Regions from separate parts of the Homo sapiens genome. Here region 2 is linked to region 1. A link means that fine-mapping ties the variant in region 1 to the expression of a gene that starts in the linked region. Tissue or cell type: whole blood. Region 1 holds a variant in brackets; the other region holds the start of a gene. All regions are shown on one strand. Distances are between the middles of the regions.

Region 1 (8,553 bases):
TAACACCGTATCTTGATCATTGTCAATAATGCTGCAATGAACATGGAGTGCAGGGATCTCTTCAATATACTAATACTGTTCTTTGGATGTATCACCCAGTAGTGGGATTCATGGATCATATGGTAGTTCTGTTTTTAATTTTTGAGAAACTTCCTTACTGTGTTCCATAATTTACATTCCCACCAACAATGTGCAAGGATTCCCTTTTCTCCACATCTTCACCAACATGTATCTTTCTTTTTTTAATCATAGCCATTTTAACAGGTGTAAGATGAAATCTCATGGATATAATTTGCATTTCTCTAATGATAACAATCTTGGGCATTTTTTCATACACCTATTGGGCATTTGTATATCTTTTGAGGAATATCTATCAGGCCCTTTGATCATTTTTTTTTTTTTTGAGATGGAGTCTCACTGTGTCGCCCAGGCTGGAGTGCAGTGGCTTGATCTTGGCTCACTGCAACCTCCGCCTCCCAAGTTCAAGCAATTCTCCTGCCTCAGCCTCCCGAGTAGCTGGGATTACAGGCATGTGCCACCACGCCCAGCTAATTTTCTGTATTTTTGGGAGAGATGGGGTTTCACCATGTTAGCCAGGATGGTCTCCATCTCTTGATCTTGTGATCCGCTCACCTTGGCCTCCCAAAGTGCTGAGATTACAGGTGTGAGCCACCGCGCCCCGCCAAATTTTTCTTTCTTTATATCCTTACTCTATAAGCTTTTTTCTATTTTTAAAATTTTTTATTTTCTTTTTTTACTTTTTAAACTTTTTTGTTAAAACTAAGACACAGGCCAGGCATGGTGGCTCATGCCTGTAATCCCAGCACTTTGGGCGGCCAAGGCGGGTGGATCACCTGAGATCAGGAGTTCCAGAGCAGCCTGACCAACATGGAGAAACCCCGTCTCTACTAAAAATACAAAATTAGCCAGGCATGGTGGCGCATGCCTGTAATCCCACCTACTCAGGAGGCTGAGGCAGGAGAATTGCTTGAACCTGGGGGGTAGAGGTTGCGGTGAGCCAAGATAGAGCCATTGCACTCCAGCCTGGGCAACAACAGTGAAACTCCGTCTCAAAACAAACAAACAAACAGGCCAGGCGCAGTGGCTAATGCCCGTAATCCCAGCACTTTGGGAGGCAGAGGTGGGCAGATCACGAGGTCAGGAGATCGAGACCATCCTGGCTAACACGGTGAAACCCTATCTCTACTAAAAATACAAAAAAATAGCCGGGTATGGTGGCGGGCGCCTGTAGTCCCAGCTACTCAGGAGGCTGAGGCAGGAGAATGGTGTGAACCCGGGAGGCGGAGCTTGCAGTGAGCCGAGATCGTGCCAACTGCACTCCAGCCTGGGCAACAGAGCGAGACTTCGTCTCAAAAAAAAACAAAATTAAGACACAAACACACACATTAATGTAGGTCTACACAGTCAGGATCATCAATATCACTGCCTTCCACCTCCATGTCTTGTCCCACTGGAGGGTCTTCAGTGGCAGTAACATGCATGGAGCTTTCATCACCTATGATGATAATGGAATACCTTCTTTTGGAATAGCTCTTGAAGGACCTGCCTGAGGCTTTTCTACAGTTAACTTTTAGAAATGTATAAGTAGAAGGAGTACCCTCTAAAATAAGTATAAAATGTAGTATATTAAATATATAAACCAGTAACAGTCATTTATCAACTATTATCACATATTGTGTACTGTACATAATTGTATATGCTTTACTTTTATATGGCTAGCAGCACAATAGGTTTGTTTGCACCAGCATTACCACCAACACATGAGTCAATGCATTACGCTATGATGTTACGACAGCTACTGTATCACTACCCAGTAGGAATTCTTCAGCTGCACTGTAATTTTATGGGACTACCTTTATGTATGCAGTCATTGACTGAAATGCTGTGGAGCTGGACATGATTGTAATATGGAAGCAGCCTTACACATTTGCCCATGTACGTACCATTTCCAAGGTCGTCTGTTTTGTAGAACTAGAGTTCCATTTGCTATCATTTTCCTTCCTTCTGAAAGACTTCCTTTTACATTTCTTTGAGAACATTGTAGTGCAAGTCTTCTGGCGATTAATTATTTAAAATTTTGTTTTCAAAAGGTATTTTCACCAGTACGGAATTTAAGGTTGACAACTTTTTTCTTTCCATACTTTAAAGATAAGAAGTATCTTTAACTCTCTCCTTGTTTGCTTTTTATTCCCCTAAGAAATCTGTTATCATCTTTATCTTTATTTTTTATACGTAATGTGTCTTTTTTCTCTACTTTTGAGATTTTTGCTTTATCATAGTTTTAAGCAATTTGTTTATGATGTTTTGACTTTATTTGGTATAGTTTTCTTCATGTTTCTTGCGTTTAGTGTTCATTGAGCTTCTTGGATCTCTGGCTTTATGCTTTTTCTTAAATTTGGAAAAATATTGGCCATTATTTCTTCAAATATGTTTTCTGTCCCTCCTCTAGTCTGCTTTTCTTTAGGGACTCAAATGACATATATATTAGGCAACTTGAAGTTGTTTTACAGCCCACTGATTTTTTTTCATTTTTGATAATTTTTATTGCTATGTCTACAAATTCATCTTTTCATCTGCAGTATCTTATCTGCCATTAATCCCACACATTTTCATCTTCACACATAATTTTTCTATCTAGAAGTTCCATTTGGGTCTTTTTTATTTCTTCCATGTCTTTATTTAACTTTTTAAACATATAGAATACAATTATTGTAATTGTTTTAATGTTTTTATCTGCTAATTTAACATCTGTGTCAATTCTGGGTCAGTTTTGATTGATTATTCTCATTATGGGCCATGTTTTCCTGCTTCTTTGGATGCTTGGTAATCTTTGGATGCTAGACTTTGTGAATTTTACCTCGTTAGGTGTTGGTTATTTTAGTATTCCTATGAACATCCTTGAGTATTATCCTCTAGTGCAATTAAGTCCCTTGAAAACAGTTTGATCCTTTTAGGTCTTACTTTTTTGATCTGTGTGGTGATCTGAGCAGTGTTCAGTCTAGAGCTAATTATCGCCTCTACTGAGATGAAAGGCTTCTGAGTACTCTAACTATCTAATGCCTCATGAATTAGAAATTTTTTCAGTCTGGTTGGTGGGAACAGGCGCCAGCCTTACGTTAGCACAAAACACTGTTCCCTGTAACCTTATTGAAGGATTCTTTCTCCAGACTAAAATACTTTTCTTACACACATGCTAATCAGTATTCTGTCCCTATACTTGAGGGTGTCCCTCTGCTAATATCTTGGTTCCTCTGTCTCTGGAGCCTTCTCCTCTTCAGTAATTTGTCCTGTCAGTTCTAGTCACCTTGGTCTCCCCAAACTCTCAACTCTACTTCCTCAACTCAGGTAGTCCACTGGGATAACTTCTGGGTCCCCTCTTCCCTGTGCTGTTTCCTGGAAACTCTCTCAAAGCAATAAACTGGGGTGATTTATTTTTTCCATCTCTCAGGAATTGCTCTCTCATTGCTTGTCTTGTTTCTTGAAACCGTTGTTTTATCCTTTGTTCTGTGGGCTGCTTATCTGTTTGTTTTGGGTTATTTCAGGCAAGAGGATAAATGTAGTTACTAGACTTCATCTTGGCCAGAAGCAAAAGTTGTAACAACAATTATTTATTTTCTACCTCAGGGTCAATTGGGCTTCAGCTGATTTAATCTGGGGTCATTGAGAGCTGTTTGGGCTAAGCTAATTTCTACTGGACTTTAGATATATATATATATATGTACATGCAAATACATATGTATGTGCTAGGCTAATTTCTACTGGACTTTATATATATATGTACATACAAATACATATGTATGTGCTAGGCTAATTTCTACTGGACTTTACGTATGTATGTATGTGTGTAATACATACACATATACATGTATGTATGTGTGTTTATATACATGTGTATGTATGTGTGTATATGTATGTAGGCATATATATATGTATGTCTATATACATAAAGAAAGAAGGTTTAATTTAGTTGAAAGTAGAAATCAGCAGGTCAGTAGTAGCCACCATAATCTTTTGGGATATAATGCTACTAATTTCAAAGAAATTATGGGTATAGTGTTGAAATGTATATTTCTAAAAGTAACTATGGAAATTATCATTTAACATCTTTGTTTTTTATTTTAAAATTAGAAGACAATGTATATAAAAATATGCAAGAATCACAGGAAACCCACATATCCAACCACCTAGATGAAGTTGTTGCTGCTGTTAGCATCACTCATAGAAAGAAGTTCCAAAACAAGCTGCTTCAGACAGCACTATTCCAGCCTCCTCGAGAGAAACTCCACCTCTGTGAAGAGAAAGCAAAGTCCTATTCCAACAGTCATGAGGTAAGGAGACTTTTGTTTCTGTATTTCTACTCTGAGAATTGAGCTATATGGTATAATCAAGAGAAGTAGAATGTTTTGGATTACATTCCTAATCT[C/A]AGCAGTTTGATACAAGAAAGTATATAAGACAGTGCCTTTGTTATAACATGAATGAATGCAGTACCTCTAGGCTCCAAGCACAGCAGTTCGCATGGCCAACAACAAATATTTGTTGAGCTCGCACTGTGTGCCAAGTCTAGGCATTGGGATACAACACAAACAAAGCAGATGCAGCTTCTGCTCTCATAGAGCTTGTAATTCCTTATAATCTCAAATCTTGTTCTCTGCATGCTTCTTTCCCATTCTTTCCTCAAAAGTTTTACTCATTCACTAACTCATTCAGTAGGCATTTCTCTATCACCTCTTATATGTTGGGTCCTCTTCATCCAGTCATCATAAATATCTATTGTATGACTAATATGTGCCAGGTGCAATGTAGGTGCCAGGGGCACAGAAGGAAAAGCCACAGTCTTTGTCTTGGAGGGACTCGGGATTTGGTTGGGAAGATAGACGGGGGACAGATAATGGTAGTCAGGTTGATGAGTTCTGTGAGAGCTCGAGTGACATAGATGCAAAACACGAAGGGGTGGACAGTGAGCCTGGAGGTGGTAGAGGGACAGCAGTTAAGGCACACTTTCTTCGGATGGGAGTTACGTAGACTGCACTGGTAAACAGTGCTTAGGAGTTGGACAGGTGAGGAAGAGGACCAAATGTTCTGGACAGAGGTAGCAGATGGACAAGAGCCAATGGTCTGAGGGAGTGCAGTCTGTCTGGGGAACTGTAAGGAGCTGTCTGGGACTAATGTGTTAGTGACACAGGGCAAGAAATGAAGCTGGATTATGGGCAGGAACTGAGGCCCAGAGGGCACTCAAGGCCTAGTGAAAGAGTTTTGATTTTCTCCTAAAGATGATGGAGGATTACCATGAGGTTATAAGCAGAAGCATGCCATGAGCAGGTCTGATTTTAAGAACAGTCACTCCCATAGCTGTGAAGGGTATGGACAAAAAAAGAGTAAAACTGGAAAAGGAGCATCAGTTAGGAGGATATTTGCAGTAATCCTGGCAAGTAATTATGAGGACCTGAACTACGTGTGGCAGAGACAATAGAAATGCTGAGCTCTTTTGAAAGGAATTTAGAAATGCAAATCAGTGGGACAGGACTGGATGACTGAGGGGACATAGGGAATGGAGATGTGAGAGTGAGAAAGATGGGGTGTGTAGAATTCCCACCACCCAAGGTCTGAGTCTGCTTGGGTGATTGGAGACTTGTCCATGACCTTCATCAGTATAACAAATACAGGAGAAAGACCAGGATTATAGAGAAAGAGCATAAATTTGGTTTTGAGGTTGTGCTTGTTCATTATGCAACAGATACTCACTCAGAACCTACTATTTGTAGGCTCTAGGCTGGCAGCCTTTCTCAAACAGACTTCTGCAAAAGAATTAAGCCCTCATGCCCAAAGGCATTTAACAAATGTAAAGAATTAACTTCTTTTCTGTGTAACTAGAATGGTATTAAACATTTCGTTGTTCTGTGGTTCTGGTGAAGAATCCAGCATACAATGGTGAACAGGACAGACAAGGTGCATACCCTGATGGACCTGAGAGGCAATCAACATTGTAAATGAACCGGATTATTATAGACTGTGATAAGTGCTAAGGAGGACATAGAGTGGCTCCGTCTTGGGTAGGGTGATCAGGGAGGGCCTCCAGGAAGACGTGACAGATAAGCTGAGACCTGAGGAAGAGAAGAGCCAGTGTGGAGGAGCTGAGGGAAAGGAGTTCCAGGGAGAGGAAACAGCACACATAAATCTACAGGGTAGGCACAAGCAGGACATATCTGAAGCAAGGAGAAGAAGCTGCAAGCTGACATTAAATATAGTGAGAGAGGCTGTCAGTTCACTTAGGGCCTTGCAGGTTTCAAGCTAAGTGCCCTGGAAGGCCTTAAAAATATTTTCAGCATGGTATTAACATGACGTAATTTACTTTTTAAAATATCAGTTTTTTAGTAATTTTGTATTTTAAAATAATTTCTGACTTACAGAAAAGGCACAAGATTCACTCATTTTTAACATTTGCTTTATTGCTTTGTTCTCTGACTCTAATTGTTTTTCTGAACTGAGAGTAAGTTATAGATATTATGGCCCTTTACCCCCAAATTCTTCAGTGTTTATTCCCTAAGAATAAAGCTATTCCCTTACATGGCCACAGTACAGTGATCGTAATTAGGAAATTAATGTCAGTATAATACTATTATCTAATCTGTAAACCTTGTTTATATTTCTTCTTAATAATGTCCTTTACAGAAAACAATCAGACCCATGGTTCAGTCTGTGAATTCATGTTAAATAGAGTTGTCATGTCTCTTTAGTCTCCTTTAATCTGAAACAATTGCTTAACCTACTTTGTTTTTCATGATCTTGATATCTTGGAAATATATACTCTAATTGTTTTGTAGAATATCTCTCTGTTTGAGTTCGTCTTATGCTTCCTCATGATTCTATTCAGATTGTACATTTGGAGCAGGACTACCACAGGTGTGACATGGGGCGCTCCTTAGTGCGTCCTGTCAGGAGGTGCAGAATGTCTGTTTGTCTTCGTACAGTGATGCCAACCTTGAACACTTGGTTAAGGTGCTGTCTGGCAGGTTTCTTTACTGCAGAATTGCCATTTTTCCCTTTGTAATTAATAAGTATTTTGTGGGTAGATTCACTGAGACTATGTATATATTTAAAACTTCACTCTGCCACCTGAATCAGTTATTACTATGATGTTTGTCACATAGCCAGTCTCTGACTTCCACATTATTTCAACATTTGTTTGTTGGCATTCTATTATAAGGAAGAGCTTTTCTTTCTTCACAGCTTATTTATCATTCATTTATTCCTATCAGTATGGGTTCAGGAAATTGTATTTTTCAAATACACTACAACCTGTTATTTTCATGGAAGCTCGGATTGTTCCGTATCTGCCAGTGAGAGACCCTTCCAGCTGGCTCCTGAGTCCTCAATGCATCCCCTTACGGTTTAACCACTTCCTGGCGCTACCACTTGCTGGTAAATCATCTCGACTTTCCAGCCTTAGACTCCTTCATCTTTAAACTGAGGGGACCAGGTGAGATGATTTCCAAGGTTCCTCCCAGTTTTGAAATTGCCTTCCTACTTCGTGCTTGTCTTCTGTCTGCCCCTTACTGATGCCTATTGCTAAAGTCACTGGAACTGGTAGAATAAAGGTTGGAAAACCAATAGGGATATTTGGACCATGCCTTGTAACAAATAAGGACGTGAAGGAAGGACAAGCTGTTTCTTGTATACCTCTATCCCTACTCAGGTCCTGAGAACCAAGGCTATTATCAGGGAAGCCCAACTCAGCCTGCACCGTCCTCTTCGCTGGAAATCTGTAGTTGGGACAGATTCACTATCAAAACAGATCTACCTCTCTTTTTGTCTGTCTGGATTCCATGATGTTGTCATCATTTCCGTGTCTTTCATACACTGTAGTTGTTGTTCTCTTTCTCTCTCTCCAAAGTAGTCATTCCCTAAACTTCCTGTGTCTAGAGGCAATAAAAAGGTGATTCCCAAAAGAAGTACAAACAGCCAGTTAACACATGAAGATGCTCAGCCTCATCAATTTGGGAGAAAAATGTGGACTAAATCAAGGAGAAATGGGCTAACTGACAAACTGACAAACTAAAAACCAAACAAAAACTCCACAATTTGTACTCAGTTCAACGTAAGGGGCATTTCTGCTCACATGTGCTGCGCTGAAAGTATGAACTGGTACAACCTCTGGGAGAGGCACTTCAATAGCTACTCACAGCCTCAGAATTTTGCATATCCTTTATACAGCAATCCCATTTGTGGGAATTTGTTTTGTGGAAATGTTTATGGGTATGTGCAAAGCTATCCATACAGGATATTCAGTGAGTAAGAAATTTACAAACAGCTAAATGCCCAATAAAGAGTGGATTGAGTAATGCAGTTATGATATAGTCATATAATAAAATACTGTGCAGCCATTCAAACTTATATCATAGAAGATGACATGAGAAGTTATTCGTAAATTGTTAAAACAGCAGCTGTAAACCTGCATGTAGTTTATGAACCTATTTTTGAAAAAGAAAAAATATATAAAGATAGATTCACAAAAATAAAGAATAAAGGGATATT
Region 2 (8,522 bases), 22 kb before region 1:
GATGGGGGTCTCACTGTGTTGCCCAGGCTAGTCTCAAATTCCTGAGCTCAAGCAATCCTCCCACCTCAGCCTCCCCAAGTGCTGGGATTACAGTCATGAGCCACGATGCCTCGCCTCTTTGTTTTTAGCTTTATGGATTATCAGAGGCATCAAAGAAATAGATCCAGGGCCACACAGTCTCATTAGTTTAAATTATTTCAATGAAAGAAGAAACACTGCACTCAGAAACAAGAATCCTGTATTATTCTATAATATTACAATGTCTCTGGGTCTCCAGTTGCCTAATATGCAGAATGGAGATAGCAATTAATGTACTGGTTTAAAGGCCTGAGTCCAGGGCAGATTATTATAAATTCTCTTCTAGCTCCAAAATTGACAAGGGCAAGAAGACAAGTAACATTTGCCGTTTTATCCACTAGGCACAGAGCTAAAACAAACTTCACCATCAGTTAACACAAAAAGAAACAAACTCAAGGCTTCAGTAATTTGTCCAAGGTTAGACCGTTCACAAGGGATAAAAGCAAGGGTTTGATACCAGGTCCAGTGGATTTCAAAGCTTGGGTTCTTCACAGACACTGACTCACAAGATTCCACAGGATACTAAGGAAATGCTGAAACAACTACAAAGAAGTTGAGCTCTGCTTAAAGATTTGACTGTTTTCCTCAGCTCTTTTTCCCAACTCTCTATTGGAAAGTACCTTTCAATAATTTTTTTTCTTAAGGAAAGTGATTTTCACTGGGAATTAATACCAAATTAGTACAAAAGGCAGCAACATAAGCTTTCAATAAACATGAGTTTTGTAATTTTCTGGCTATATTTTATTATTTTCAAATTCTAATTCCTGGCTAATGAGCTAGCACTTGCCATTTTATATAAAAAGGCAAAGTATGAAATACTATTTCCAAAGCAACGTAAGGATCCAATACTTTCCCACATTTATTCCACCTACTCACCTATTTTATGAGATATATTAATGTGACTTTGTGCAAGATAATTTTTCCACATCTTAATTATCCTACCTGTAAAGCAAAGGGAAGTAGACTACAAATAACATCAATGATTCTGTGTAGAAAGTGAAACTTCATAGGTAATTATTCACTGAACTAGGAAACTGTTAGCAGTTTAGATGTCTCACAACCATCTCAAACTTAACACATTCAAAGAGCTTTCCATTTTCATCATCAATCCGAATCTCCACAGTTTTTCCCATCTCAGTAAATGGCTCACCCCTCCATCCACCCAGTGGCTCAAGCCGGAGAAGCAGGAAGTCATGAATGATTCCATCCTTTCATATTCTGACCACCTCCAATCTATCACAAGGCTAGTGGCCTCTATCTCCCAAATACATCTCAAATCCATCCAAATCTCTCCATCTGCCAAAACCACAAGCCACAGTCATCTCCTGCCTGGCCAACAGTATTACCAGTCTCCCTGTGTCCACTCTAGTCACTTCCAACACATTAATCCCAGCAATGGGCCTTTAAAAATGTACATCCAATTACATCTCACTCTTTTCGGTACACATCTTACTAAATAAACCCTTCAGAAACTTCTTACTTAGAAAATCAACTCATACTAGGCCTTGAGGGTGCCTCACCATCTGCCCCCACCCACTTCTCCAGCAACTCTGCTTGGCTTCTCACCAAGCTTCTGGGCTTTTCCAATCCTCAAAGCTACTAAACCCCTAACAGCACTTGCTGGTCTCCTCTTAGCCTAGAAAGCAATGTCCCATCATTCTCCAGATTTCAACATAAAAATTACTTCCTGAGACCGGGCGCAGTGGCTCACGCCTGTAATCCTAGCACTTTGGGAGGCCGAGGAGGGTGGATCACCTGAGGTGAGGAGTTCGAGACCAGCCTGGCCAACTTGGCGAAACCCCATCTCTACTAAAAATACAAAAATTAGCTGGGTTTGGTGGCGGGCGCCTGTAATCCCAGCTACTCGGGAGACTGAGGCAGGAGAATCTCTTGAAACCGGGAGGCGGAGCTTGCAGTAAACCGAGATCGCACCACTGCACTCCAACCTGAGCGACAGAGCGAGACTCAGTCTTAAAAAAAAAAAAATCACTTCCCTATCCCAAAGTAATTCCCCTGGTGTTCTTTCAGAGGAACTTGGCTGTTTGTTTTTTCTTCGTAGGACTCCTCACAATTTGTCACTTAAATATTTATCGTTGCATCTGTCTATTGTCAATAAAGCCAAAAAGCCTGTAAATAAACCCTTCCGAAACTTATTTAGAAATCCTGAGGGCAGGGACTGCGTTGTTTTCTTCACGCTTGCATACCTGCATCTAGCACAGTAACTAAAAGTAACCCTTCCTAAAACCTAGGTGATGGGTTGACAGGTGCAGCAAATCACCATGGCACACGTTTACCTATGTAACAAACCGGCATATTCTGCACATGTATCCAGGGACTTAAAATTTTAAAGTAGGCCTTCTAATATCTGATGACATGTGGAAGAACATTGCAAGGTTGATTTTTCATCCAACTATGTCAAGACCACGGATAGAGCCTATAAGCTTGCTACATGCCACAAGGATGTCTAATCTTTACAACCATGCACTGCAATAGACATTATGTAGCCCGTTTTGTAGAGGAGGAAACTGAGTTTCTCAGAGGGTAACATGCCATAGTTCCATCGCAGGTGGACTGACTACAAAGCGTGTGCACCGCCGCCCTATAATGCAAAACCACACTCACTGAAGGAAGATTCAATAAGACAGTCCCTGTAACCTGACGGCTTTCCTTCTGAATGTTCTGGCTGGGATTGGCTGCCTCAAAAACACCATTACACTCTGTTAAAATTGCTACAAAGGCTGTTTGGGAGATAAAATCTAAACAAATGAAATCCTAAAACTGCCAATAATAGCAATAAAGCATCAACAATGCTCACAGTTTTGCAGTATGCATTCACGGGCCATACACAGCCTTTAACAAGGTAATTTTCTTACCCCATTTCACTTGACTACATCTTACCTAGTTAAGCAAACTACCTCTTGTATAGTTATACTACCTCTTATGTAGTTAAGGCAAATAGTATTACTTAATATCAGCTGTATACAGCTGCACTTACACACGAGCTTTCTGACAGGTGAACACCAATCTATCTTATTATTAAAAACAAAACAAAAAAATCAAAAACCTCTCAACAAAATTCCACACATATTAAGGAGTATTTTGAAAGGAAGGAGTCCCTTATACTGACCTCCCCGTACTCAATTTAGTAGAATACGCATTCCAATTTCCTAACGCTGGAGATTAGAGAACTATAAGCTACATATTAAAAGCATTTGTAAAAGGCTATTTTCTCAGCTGTGGTAACAAACACTGGCAGAGTCTTAGGCAAAACACACGCCGTTTCGCCCGAGTTAGCCAGCCACTGAGATCGTTACAGTTGGGAAGCAGCGAGCCCAGCAGCAGGGATTTCACGGACCCGGTATCAGGGTTCTCGGGTCCCAGGGGCCGCGGGCCGCAGAGTGGGAGGAGGACCCGGCAGCTGTGGCCACCCGAGGCCCGGACGGCTCCGCTGTCCCACTCGCCGCGACCCGGACGCTTTGGCAGGACCACGTCTGGGGCGTCCCCGCCGGGGGGCCGGGTCAGAGAGCCTCGCCACTTGAATCACCCGACGAGGCGGACAGCTCTACTCACCTCAGCGCCAGCAGAGCCAGCGCTCCGGAGCGCAAGCGGCGCTGGAAGCCAAGCGGGGGACGGCGGGCGGGGCGGGGCAGGGAGCCAGGCGAGGGCGGGGCGGAGCGCCGGGCGTCGGGGGCGGGGCTCCGGGGGTGGAGCGGAACCCGCGCCAGAGGGAGCTGGGGAAGAGGGAGCGGGAGAGGAGCACGGAACCTCGCGATAATCCCCTGTGTTCTCGCGCTTTCACGATAGGCGCGGGAAAATGCTCGTTTGCCAAGCGATCTGTGTATTGGCCGAGAGCGCTACTTCCTCTATGCTGGCCCCGCCCGCGGCTCTACTCTTGCTTCCGGCTCCGGCGTGGGGTTTGATGTCGACGGAGTGGCTTTTGCTTAGCGTCTTGAAGGGGTAATTTAGTCGGCTCCAACTTCGGGAACCGCCAGTTACTGACCTGTTCCTTCATTCATACATTCATTCAGTCACTCGGCTTCTCATTCAGAGCACACGTTGAGGGATTACAACAATGATCCCACGTTGAGCGTTCGTTCTAAGAGCTGTTTATAGATTATCTCGTTGAACCCTTGACAGCAATCCCATGACACAGGGACTAACAGCGCCAGTCTGACCGTTGAAAAACAGGCCAGTGGGTTTATGTAACGAAGCCAACGTTATTTAGCAAGTAGTGAGTCTAAGCACCGGATTTAAGGGGTCACTACGAACTGGTAGATAACAAAGATGAGGAGGACGTAACCTAGTCTCTGCCCTTCAAACACCCAAGGTTTATTTTGAGTAAAGATTGCTAAAAAGGTCAGGAACAATTTAGAGAGTTAAATACAATGACACTTCCTAGCCTGACTGAGTAGGCCGTCAATATGTATTTCTTCAAGACGAAAATTATTATGTCAGCGAAATAGCATGAAAGAGGGCTTTATGCTGTTAAAAATACTTGGAAGCATAGTTCGGAAACATTTTTAAAAGACACTTTTTAAAGTGTCTCATTAATATGACAAATTTCCTTCTGAAATGAAGATTTTAAAGTATAATCCTCTACTACAACCGCTGATATTTTTTGTTCTGTGGAAAGCCTGTCTATGAGTTTGCGAGGCTCCTTGTCAAGGAACTTTAACTTTATAATGAAGTAGTTTTTACAGTTGCTGACTTAATTATTCATAGAGACGAATAACCTAGAAAGCAGAGTTATATTAAATAAAAAACATTGGTTTTAAAACAAGGTATGAGTTATAATAAAAATTATCAGTTATCTATTAAATCTGGTCTTCAAGAGCTATTCAGGTATACAGCATGGTTGGTATATGTCATGTATTTCTAAGATAGTTTCGGAATACCTAAGAATTCGTGGCACTCAGAAATTTTTTGCTGGTCTTAAAATGAGGAAATCCACATTTTGTGTAAAAACAAAGATACGGTGTTTAATGGTCAGCCCAAATAATAAGACTTGCTGCTAATATATGAAGAGTTACACCCCCCAAAAAAGAAAAAAGATTAACAGTAGAACAGTTTTTTGAAAACAATGTTAGCCTCTTAGTTTTCATTTCTTTTTTTTAATGGGGAATACTGTTTTTCAGTGATTAATATCTGATATTTGATCATGAAAAATGAATCATGTTAAAATAACCTTCACCTCCTCCCCACATTGACACAAAAGTTACCAAGTGATTATATTTGATAATACTTTATGACCCCACTCTTGAAGTTCTCACAATTTGTAGAGAATCAATTCGCACGTTTTGTCTCTCTTAAAGGGGAAAAAAATCCTCTAAGCTGGTGATTTCACGTTCTTTGACAAACTTCAATATCAACAGGCAACGATACCACTTTAAGAAAATTCCAAGGAAAAGACCTCATTTTAAAATTCCCACCTCTGGCTCCCAAAGATTGGTTTGCAAACTTCGACAAAATACTCTTCTCCACTCGCTATTGGTGAGTGCTCTATCATTCATTCTTTTGCCTGGAGTTTTGTGAGGTACCCGCTTGCTTTATGGGAAAAGGCTGCTCCGGAACTGCCCTACTTTAGACTTTTTCATGGTTATCAATCTGTACAAAGAATCACCAAACTGATAAAGCAGGAACCAGAGGGCAAATCACGCTGCCAAGACAACTGTGTAATTCGCTCGAAAAAGAAACGGTGAGCCTCTCCAGCAGACTGGGTAAACTGGCAAGGGATTTTACGACATAGTTGGAGATTGGAGAGTTACAGAAACTTTTCCGGTTTTTTACAAGTTTTAAAGGAGTGATTGAGTGTCAAAGGAAAAGCAGAGAAAATACAGGCACAATTTAAAGACAGCAGGAAGAAGAGTGTTCAGAGAGCATTTTTCTCTTTAGGGTGAAGTTTGAAAGCATCATGCCCAGATTATCAGTGGATTTTTGAAAGGTAAAGGAGGCAAGATAATAAGATTAACTATAGATCATTTTCTACTTTAAGAAACTGTGCTTCGTTATTGTTGCTTAAGTGTGGATTTAGAAGGACATTTAGTAATATTGTAATTTTTATATGGATATTTTTGTTTATATATTGTCATACCTGGCATAATAGATAATATATCTATTAAAAGATATAGGAGAAAATAGAGTTGCTTGAACCCAAATTTTGTGTATATTTGTGGATTAGGGATTCCAGGGACAGATCTGCTAATGGCTGAACAAAACATACTACAGATACCTGAAGCAGAATCAGCATGTAAGGGTAAATTCTCAAAAAAATCCAGCAATCATATTTCAAAAATGACATTTTTAATTAAAACAAATACAAAAGAATTTATCAAGGAAACGTTGATGAACATGACTATTTCTTAAGTTGCCTGTGTTAATCCATATAGGGGAATATAAAGTAATAAAATCCAGCCCCTCAAGAGCAGGGACAAATGAGGCTCAGAACATTTAAACTAAAACTTCTGAACAGTTCTTAATGCCCGGATGACTGTTGTAGAGCACAGGTGCTTCAGGAGCTCAGCTCAATGTGAGATGAATTATTCAGAGAAGGCTTCACAGTATGGGTAAGACTCAATTTGGGCCTGAGCAATGGGCAGAATTTCAGAGAGAAAAATAAGGGAAGTGGCATCCCTACTAGTGAGTGAGTTGTTAGCAAATACATGCAGCCTGAGGAAGAGTTGGTTCTGACTGCGGCAGAAGGTTCATTTGGAAACTTTGGTTACAAATTTTAAAAAGCAGCATGAGAAATATAAAGAGCCGGAATTCCCAAAATCAGGGGTTTGGGTCCTGTGTTTGGAACAGGAGGCACCCCTTATGAAAGTAATATTTGAAGACAATAAAACTGACAGTGGAATTTAAGATGGCTAGACCAGAGCAGAGACCAGAAGCTAAGGGGCCCCATGCTGTGTAAATACTGGCACACAGGTTAGTAACCATGCTTCTTACCCGAATACATTTACCTTATCATTGTTGAATAATATAAATTTTGATGCACTTCTTTGTAGTCTTCGAAAGCATTGAGTTTACTTCTTTAAGATTTTTGGGGACCGCTGCCACACTGTCTTGGGGAGTCATGGTTGCCCCGTCTTTATAAAAGTCTTGTCATAATATGTATAAAAACCAGAATTACACATAAAACTGCGTTGTGGTTTCATAGCTATTTTTAACAGCTTTAATGAAGTATAATTTATATATTATAAAGTTCATTTGTCTTAAGGATATAACTCAATGATTGTTTTAGAAAATCACAACCATCACCACATTCCAATTTTAGAAAATTTTCATCATCCTAGAAAATTTAGAAAATTTTCATCATCCTAGAAAATTTAGAAAATTTTCATCATCCTAGAAAATTTAGAAAATTTTCATCATCCTAAAAAAATACTTTGTGCCCATTTGCAGGCAAGTCCTGGTTTCCTATCCCCAGCCCCAATCACTAAAAAACTTTCTGTCTATAAATTTACCTTTTCTGGGCATGTAAGTGGAATTACACATTATGCGATCCTTTGCATCTAGTTTCTTTTACTTAGCATAATGTTTTTGAGGTTCATCCATGTTGTAGTATGTCTCATTACTTCATTCCTTTTTATTGCTAAGTAATAATCCACATTTTATTTAACAGTACCAATTAACAGACATTTGGATTTCTTCTAGTATTTAAATATAGTGTTTAATTGTACTAATTGTAATTGTATTACAGTAAATACAGTACAGTATTTAGCATTATGAATAATGCTGCTATGAAGATGGGTACAAGTTTTTGTATGAACGTGTGTTTTCAGTTTTCTTGGGTGTATATCTACGAGTGGAATTACTGTCATATGGTAACTCTGGGTGTAACTTTTCAAGGTGTTGCACAACTGCTTTCCAAGGTGAATTTCCCATTTTACATTTCCACCAGAGTGTATGAGGGTTCCAATTTGTCCACATCCTCACCAACACTCCTTATGATCTGTCTTATTCATTGTAGTCATTCAGCTGGATTTTAAGTGGTATCTTATTACAGCTTTCATTTGCATTTTCCTGATGACTGACGATATGAAGCATCTTTTCATGTGCTTGTTGACTATCCATATATCTTCTTTTGTAAAATGTCTTTCAAATATTTTGCCTATTTTTTTAATTGAGTTGTCATCTTGTTACTGATTGTTTTTTGGTTTTTTTGGTTTTTGTTTGTTTGTTTGTTTGTTTGAGACTGGGTCTCGCTTTGTCGCTCAGGCTGGAGTGCAGAGTGCCACGATCTCGGCCCACTGCAATGTCCACCTTCCGGGTTCAAGCAATTCTTCTGCCTCAGCCTCCCGAGTAGCTAGGATTACAGGTGCCCACGACCACGCCCAGCTAATTTTTTGTATTTTTAGTAGAGACGGGGCTTCACCATGTTGGCCAGGCAGGTCTCGAACTCCTGAACTCGTGATCCACCTGCCTTGGCCTCCCAAAGTGCTGGG

The links. PIP is the estimated chance that this variant, and not a neighbour inherited with it, causes the effect.
Region 2: it holds the start of LRRC28, and the variant in region 1 is fine-mapped to the expression of LRRC28 in whole blood (TOPMed, PIP 0.93).

Annotation. Positions count from the first base shown.
Region 1 is chr15:99,224,329-99,232,881 of GRCh38, reverse strand. TTC23 (tetratricopeptide repeat domain 23) reads left to right here. Exons shown (of 14, transcript NM_001288615.3): 5 at 4,150-4,349. The coding sequence starts at 4,170. Among named protein-coding and RNA genes, the nearest start is that of TTC23, 21 kb to the left of the region's middle. The variant C/A (reference allele first, on the strand shown) is at 4,445.
Region 2 is chr15:99,246,668-99,255,189 of GRCh38, reverse strand. LRRC28 (leucine rich repeat containing 28) reads right to left here and starts at 3,709. Exons shown (of 10, transcript NM_144598.5): 1 at 3,649-3,709. It overlaps TTC23 (tetratricopeptide repeat domain 23), which reads left to right and starts at 5,609. Exons shown (of 14, transcript NM_001288615.3): 1 at 5,609-6,019. RefSeq lists a silencer at 3,395-3,934 and an enhancer at 4,185-4,234.